Homo sapiens: one gene and its partner. The protein of the gene in region 2 purifies or fractionates together with the protein of the main gene of each other region. This does not show direct contact. Each region holds a gene or a part of one and is shown on either strand. Other genes may lie near its edges.

Region 1 (3,821 bases), on a different chromosome or scaffold from region 2:
ATGACAGAATGGGAAAATGGAAGAAAGCTGGTCTCTAGCAACTTTGTGGAGTTGCCATTCCTGCCTGGGGCTGTCTATTGTCGGAATTCTTTTAACTGGGAGAGAAATAAACTGCTTTGTATAAAGAAAAAAATGGGGGTATTACTCCAATAAATTGAAGTGATCCTAAAACAAAGAATACAGGCCTAGGGAGAATAAAGCAGGCCAAACTACGTGGTGTTTTTTTTTTTTTCCAAACAAATTTAATTCTGTTCCAGCCCCAAAGAAGAGGAAGGACCTAAAGTTCAAAAATAAAAATAAAAATTGCTAAAAATAAAAGCCATTACAAAATTAAGCCCCCTCCTTTAGCAATAAATACTGAACTGATATATACATATGAGGCTTAGGAAGGAGGCAACAACAGGAACCTTGGGGACTCTGTCCCATGGCAAGATCCCAAGACTTCTACCAATTCCATGCTCTTTGCTTAAAACATAGAGAGCAGTGGAAGAGACAGGAGAGATATGCCAGAAGAGTATGTGGCCCTGTAGAGAGCTGGAACATGATGAGGACAGAGGAGAGAGAAGAGATACGAAGTGTAATACAGGCAGGGAAAGAGAAAGTCTTCATTTAAAACATTCCTCCCATCCCTGCTGAATCACTGGATGTGGCTGGACCGGCTGTCCAGAGCCTTGTCTCCTCTCCTCCACTCCCTGTTGAGCATGCAAGTCAAAGGTCATTCACACTGTGGTCGCGATGCCACTGTGGCAACAGCCTGGCTGCTGGATCCCTGAGGCTTCCCATTCACCACTAGCAGGAGGGGCGTCTCCACTCGAACACTGGAAAAGGAATAGTCCTAGAAAAGACAGACAGACAAAGGTTCACTACAGATTCCAAGATGGAAAAAGCTCCAGCATGGGGATACACCACTTGCAACTTTCTGCACCACCTCCCCTGTTGTATACCCCCTCTACTTCCATCTCACATCAGACAAAACTGAGCTAACACAGGGGACGAAAATTTCCCAAAGTTTTCAATCTTCAGAAGGAAAACATGGAGCATGTAAGGTCATGTAGTGCCACTACAAGAATGAGACAGCTCTTTGATCCAAAAAAGGCAGGTTCCTGGCATTGCCTAACAAAAGAATGCAACCAACTCTCATAGAATCTGCCTTTTCCCACGGTGTTTCCTGATAATTAACTAGATACACATAGCAGCCGGCCAGAGCCAGTGGGAATCCTGAGAAAATCTCAGTCCAAATGTTTATAAGGTCCTAATTTAATCCACCAAATACAAATTAAAGTTACTTCTCTTTTATATCAAGAGGAGGAAATAGAACATGAAACAGAATGTAGCCGTTTTCCTAATAACAAAAAAGGTATCAGCTCACTGTATCAGTTTAAGTGTATTTTAAGTTGTAAAACATATTAAATAGTCTTCATCCAAAAAATATGGCAATGAGAGGCAGGCTCTTTTAAGTCCAAGTAAAGTAAATTTAAAAGTTCTCATAAACCAATTTTTTTTAAGTCTTCACAGAAATATCAACAAGTGACACAAAAAATGGCAATTTATACAAGAAATATAAATTAATATTCATGCTATATTTTCCATGTAAAATTAGAAAATAACTTTTCAAAGGTTTCCAACCAGAGTTGAGAAAAAAACTACAGAGAAACACTTATTTACATCCACTGTTGGTAGTGACAACTAACTAGTACAATTTTCCAAAGAATTATTTGGCAATATGTATCAAAAGCCTCAGAATTCTGCATACCCTTTGGACCCAGGAGTCTACATTAGAAATTCATTTAAGGAACTAATCATAGATACAAGCAAAGATACAAAAATCCTCACTGTGTTTCTAATTTTTTTTCTATTATAAAAGTACTAATTTAGATCGGAGGTCATCAAAGTATTTCTGCAAAGGGACAGATAGTAAATATTTTAGGCTTTGTAGGTCATATGGTCTCTGTTACAGAACAAGTCACCTCTGACACTATAGTGCAAAAACAGCCACAGACAATAGTAAGCAAATGAGTGTGGCTGTGTTCCAATAAAGCTTTATTTGTGGACACTGAAATCTGAATTTCCTGTAATTTTCACATATCACAAAATATTACGCTTCTGTCCATTTTTTTCACTTAACAACACAGAAACCACACTCTTGTTTTTCTTTTTTTTTTGAGGCAGACTTTCTCTATCACCCGGGCTGGCGTGCAATGGGACAATAATGGCTTACTGCAGCCTCAAACTCCTGAGATAAAGTGGTTCTCTCACTTCAGCCTCCTTAGTAGCTGGGACTACAGGCATGTGCTACCATACCTGGCTAAGTTTTTTAACATTTTTTTGTAGAGACGGGGTCTCACTATATAGCCCAGGCTGGTCTTAAACTCCTGGGCTCAAGTGATCCTCCCACCTTGGCCTTCCAAAGTGCTGGGATTTTACGCATGAGCCACCATGCCCAGCCTAGAAACCATTATTAATAAACACAAGCAGTGAGCCAGATTTGGTCAATGGGCTTTGCCAACCTCTGATCTAAATGGTTAAACAGTAGTTAAATATCTACATTCATAAGGTTTTTTTAAGAATTGAATGGGGCAAGGCAGGTAATAAAAACTCTTAGCACAGTGTCTAGCACTCAATTAAGTGTTAAATAAATGTTAACTATCATTACCATCTTCATCACCCCGTGTCTACTCAATGTGGTGAAATATGTAAAAACATAGGAAACATTCACAAACATTTGCATATAATATCCCACTCATGATTTAAAATATAGATATATGTGTATATATTTGTGAAAAGAAAAGACTTCAGGTATATACACCAAACTGTTAACAGTAACAGTTAAAAGGCAGTAATACCTGAGTGATAATATTTCACTGCATTTTTTTATTTTTCTGCTTACCAGTTTACCTTTTTAGTAAAAAAATACATATATATATATAAATAAAACATATACACACAAATATATATACACATAGCCTACACACATACTTACATATAATTATTTCTATATCTTTTATAAAAAGATAAGCTTGGTTCTACTTTTAGAGCCTACGAGTTGTAAGAGAATCCTAGCCATTGCTCACCTTTCCTTTGTGCTGAATTCGGTGAAGCCGCAGGTTGGGCTCAGGAATGGCTACAGAGTCTCCAATGAGCACTCCCCAGCTCTGCACTATATTGTACACCATCACTGCATAGCAAGGTCCATCTGAATCTACCAGGCCAAATGTACTACCAAGTAAAGACAGATTAGGAGAGAGGAAAACAAAAAGGTATGTGGGTAGGAAAGAAGAGCAGAAACAGTGGTTTAAAAATACTAGCAAAATACTGGACTTAAAGTCAGTGACAGGTAATTAAAATAAAATATAAAATTTAACTTAATTAAACTTTAAAAATAAAATACTAACAAAATAAACAAATGCTTTTTCTCAGTTACTCAGAAAACCTATGAGAGGTACCATCTTCCACTTTATATATCTGAGTCTTCATTTTTCTGAAACTCATCAGTCACTTTGCTAAGAACTTAGGACAAAGCACACTGAAGCCATTCAACAAATATTAATGATGAACTAGACCAACATGTTACAGTTGTAACATTATTCCTGGTCTATCAATTTAACTATCATACTCTTAACCAAAGCCTCTAACCATCACTGTCTGTGTAGTTTAACTCCACAAACTTTCACTGAATATTACATATGTGCCAAGCATTGTGTTTAGCAATAAGATACCAATCCAGCTATGAATGACCTATAGTCTAGCAGGAGTCAGACAATGAAGTCATCACTTACAGCACAGTGTGATGGGTGCTAGAATAGCTTTTCCCTTGTGCTGAA
Region 2 (3,821 bases):
GTTAACAATAAACCACGCAAAAAGGAACCAAGAACACCCCAGCCTGAAGGCCACAGGGCATTCGCTGAAGCAGGAAGTTATGAATCATTTCCATCTTAAAACATCATGTGGTTCCTTCAGATTTTATTCTGTTTAAAGAGGAAAAAAAGCATCCTTGCCTGAAAGGGAGGCTTCATAGGCCTTCTTTAGCAATTCAAGTTTCTCTGAGTGGCTAGCTTCAATTTCCAACTTAGAGGTTTCATGCGCAGCATTTAAGTTGTCAAACTGTAAGCAACAAACAAAACCGTGGTTTAACAGTAAAACCAAATGTCCTAAGTTGAATACGCAAAGCAACCACATTAGGAGACGTCACAGCTTCACAGGTAAGCGTGGGCTCTAGTTTAAAGGCTCCTCAACACATACAAAGGTCAGGGCAGTGGTTCACACTTGTAACCTCAGCACTCTGGGAGGCAGAGGTGGAGGATCACTTGGAGCCCAGCAGTTCAAGTCCAGCCTGGGCAATGTCGCGAGACTCTGTCCCCACATGTGCACACACAAAGAATGCATGAAGAGCAACGCAACTGGGATTCACCGCTCAACTCTCCTCTGTCTCCTTCCCTACCCTCAGGAACACAGACACAGAGGCTCTCCAGGGTGACAGATGGAAATGGCTGCATCAGTCACAAGGAATGACCAGGAACGAGGATATGTTTCACAGTGACAGGGCCACATGCTCTGCGCCTGTCACTTGACCACTCAGGCCCTAGCATGTGCCTGGCCTGGAGTAGGCACTCTGTAGATATTTACTAAATGAAAAACTGAGTTAAAAAGGGAGCTACAAAATTAAAAAGGTTTGATATTTTATTCAGTGAAAAAAAAAATGGGATATTTAAACAGATGCCACTAAAAAAAAAAAAAAGAAAGAAATGCAAAACAATAGTTTGGCAACACACCACCAGGATGTTTACAAGGGATTATTTCTGGGTAGAAAGAAAGGGTTGTTTTTTCAATTTTATCTTTTCCTCCTCCTTTTCTTCCCTTCTTTCACTTAACATAATACATTCCTTTGGTCATAAGAAAACTATTCAATTAAAAAGATACTGTTTCCAAGGCAGGCGGATCACCTGAGGTTGGGAGTTTGAGACCAGCCTGGCCAACATGGTGAAACCCCGTCTCTACTAAAAATACAAAAATTAGCTGGGCATGGTGATGGGTGCCTATAGTCCCAGCTACTCAGGAGGTTGAGGAAGGAGAATCACTTGAACCCGGGAGGCAGAGGCTGCAGTGAGCCAAGATCAAGCCACTGTACTCCAGCCTCCAGCCTGGGAGACAGAGTGGGACTCTGTCTTAAATAAACAACAACAACATGCTTTTTATACCTATTAGACTAAAAAAGAGAAGCTCATCAAGATGTGAAGAGCAACCAGGATTCAAGTAAGCAGCAGAGGCCTCAGACAAGCTCTGGCTGCAAAAGCACAGACCTGCTCTTGCAATTGCATTTTGTACTTCTCTGCTTCTTCAATGTAAGTGTCCCGAAGCTTTTCATACTCCCTGGTGTAAAACTCTTTAAGCCGATTCTCTCGTTCTGTTTTTTCAGCCTGGTGCTGCTGGACGAATGCTTCATACACTGTTTGTAACTCATTCCTGGCTTTTTCTAATTTCTCACAGGTGGTTGAAGCAGTGACTGAAAACAGAGGAGAAAGAAGAGGGAAGAGGTCATTTTATTTGTGAAATGTCCTATATTCATTACAGTCACACACAGCTGTGATGACACCTGAAGCATACACCCATGATGTCTTGGGTCTCTAGTGACCATGTCTTCAAATATAACAGTATGGAAGTGAACTGTAAAAAGGAACACGAGGGCAGGGCGCAGTGGCTCACACCTGTAATCCCAGCACTTTGGGAGGCTGAGGTGGGGGAATCACCTGAGGTCAGGAGTTCAAGACCGGCCTGGTCAACATGGTAAAACCCTGTCTATCTTAAAAATACAAAAATTAGCCGGGCATGGTAGCAGGTGCCTGTAATCCCAGCTACTCGGGAGGGTGAGGCAGGAGAATTGCTTGAACCCGGGAGGCGGAGGTTGTAGTGAGCCAAGATCACGCCACTGCACTATAGCCGGGGTGACAGACTGAGACTCCATCTCAAAAACAAACAAACAAAACCCCCCCCCACCCCACATTCAAAAAACTGACTCCCAAGCAGTAAGAGAAGTACTTCAGAAGACCCAGGTTTCTAAGAGAAGATCCCCTCTCATGTGGTGACCAGTCAATGCAGTGGTCAAGAAAAGAGCCTTGGCCAGGCAGAGACATTTCTTAGGACAAGCGACTCCTCCCTCTCCCAGCCAGCCAGTGTGGTAGAAGCTCACACAAGAGCAGGAAAGACGAGGGATAAGAAACAAGTGGACCGGCCGGGCGCGGTGGCTCACGCCTGTAATCCCAGCACTTTGGGAGGCCGAGGCAGGTGGATCATGAGGTCAGGAGATCGAGACCACGGTGAAACCCTGTCTCTACTAAAAATACAAAAAATTAGCCGGGTGTGGTGGTGGGCGCCTGTAGTCCCAGCTACTCGGGAAGTTGAGGCAGGAGAATGGCGTGAACCCAGGAGGCGGAGCTTCCAGTGAGCCGAGATTGCGCCACTGCACTCCAGCCTGGGCGACAGAGTGAGATTCTGTCTCAAAAAAAAAAAAAAAAAAAAAAAGAAACAAGTGGACCTTAAACTTGTAGTTAATTTGAGTTGATTATAATTTGTTATTTCAAAACTAATAAAAATAAAATATTAGCCTCTATTAAACGCAAATCACCAGAGCACAAATATCTTAGGGAAAAAAAAACACATCTTAAAAGCACCCACATAGGCCAGGCACGGTGGTTTGTGCTATAATTCAAGTATTTTAAGAAGCTGAGACCGGGCGCGGTGGCTCACGCCTGTAATCCCAGCACTTTGGGAGGCCGAGGCGGGCGGATCACGAGGTCAGGAGATCGAGACCATCCCGGCTAAAACGGTGAAACCCCGTCTCTACTAAAAATACAAAAAATTAGCCGGGCGTAGTGACGGGCGCCTGTAGTCCCAGCTACTTGGGAGGCTGAGGCAGGAGAATGGCGTGAACCCGGGAGGCGGAGCTTGCAGTGAGCCGAGATCCCGCCACTGCACTCCAGCCTGGGCGACAGAGAGAGACTCCGTCTCAAAAAAAAAAAGAAGCTGATGCAGGAGAATCATTTGCACCTAGGAGTTCATGACCAGCCTGGACAACATAGGGAAACCCATCTCTTAAAATTAAAAAAAAAAAAAAAAAATTATCCAGGCATGATGGTGTGGGCCTGTAGTCCCTGCTACTGAGGAGGCTGAGGTGGGAGGATCACTTGAGCTCAGGAGATTGAGGCTGCAACTGTTGGGCAACAGAGCAAGACCCTATCTCAAAAAAAAAAAAAAAAAAAGCAATATAAAATGAAAGGTTAAAAAAATTTATATATGTATACATAGGTACATATGTGCACGTATATATGCATACATATGTATGCATGCATATATGTATATATCTATGTGTACATGTGTATATATGTACATATATGTATGCATATATACATGCATATACATATACATATATAATACATATATACACATATATACACTATATATATAGACACACACACACACACACACACACACACACACACACAGAGTCTTGCTGTATTGCCCAGGCTGAAGTGCAATGACACAATCTTGGCTCACTGCAACCTCCAACTCCCAGGTTCAAGCGATTCTCCTGCCTCAGCCTCCTCAGTAGCTGGGATTACGGCACATGCCACCACGACCAGCTAATTTTTGTATTTTAGTAGACA

Evidence for each region.
Region 1: the proteins of MTUS1 (region 2) and TTC5 purify together in Homo sapiens (affinity purification with mass spectrometry; one large-scale study listed by BioGRID and IntAct). This does not show direct contact.

Annotation. Positions count from the first base shown.
Region 1 is NC_000014.9:20,288,912-20,292,732, forward strand, and holds part of TTC5 (tetratricopeptide repeat protein 5), read right to left. Parts: intron 3,217-3,821; coding exon 3,072-3,216; intron 836-3,071; coding exon 716-835; 3' UTR 1-715. UniProt on the Homo sapiens protein: Cofactor involved in the regulation of various cellular mechanisms such as actin regulation, autophagy, chromatin regulation and DNA repair.
Region 2 is NC_000008.11:17,654,403-17,658,223, forward strand, and holds part of MTUS1 (microtubule-associated tumor suppressor 1), read right to left. Parts: intron 1,664-3,821; coding exon 1,461-1,663; intron 265-1,460; coding exon 159-264; intron 1-158. UniProt on the Homo sapiens protein: Cooperates with AGTR2 to inhibit ERK2 activation and cell proliferation. May be required for AGTR2 cell surface expression. Together with PTPN6, induces UBE2V2 expression upon angiotensin-II stimulation.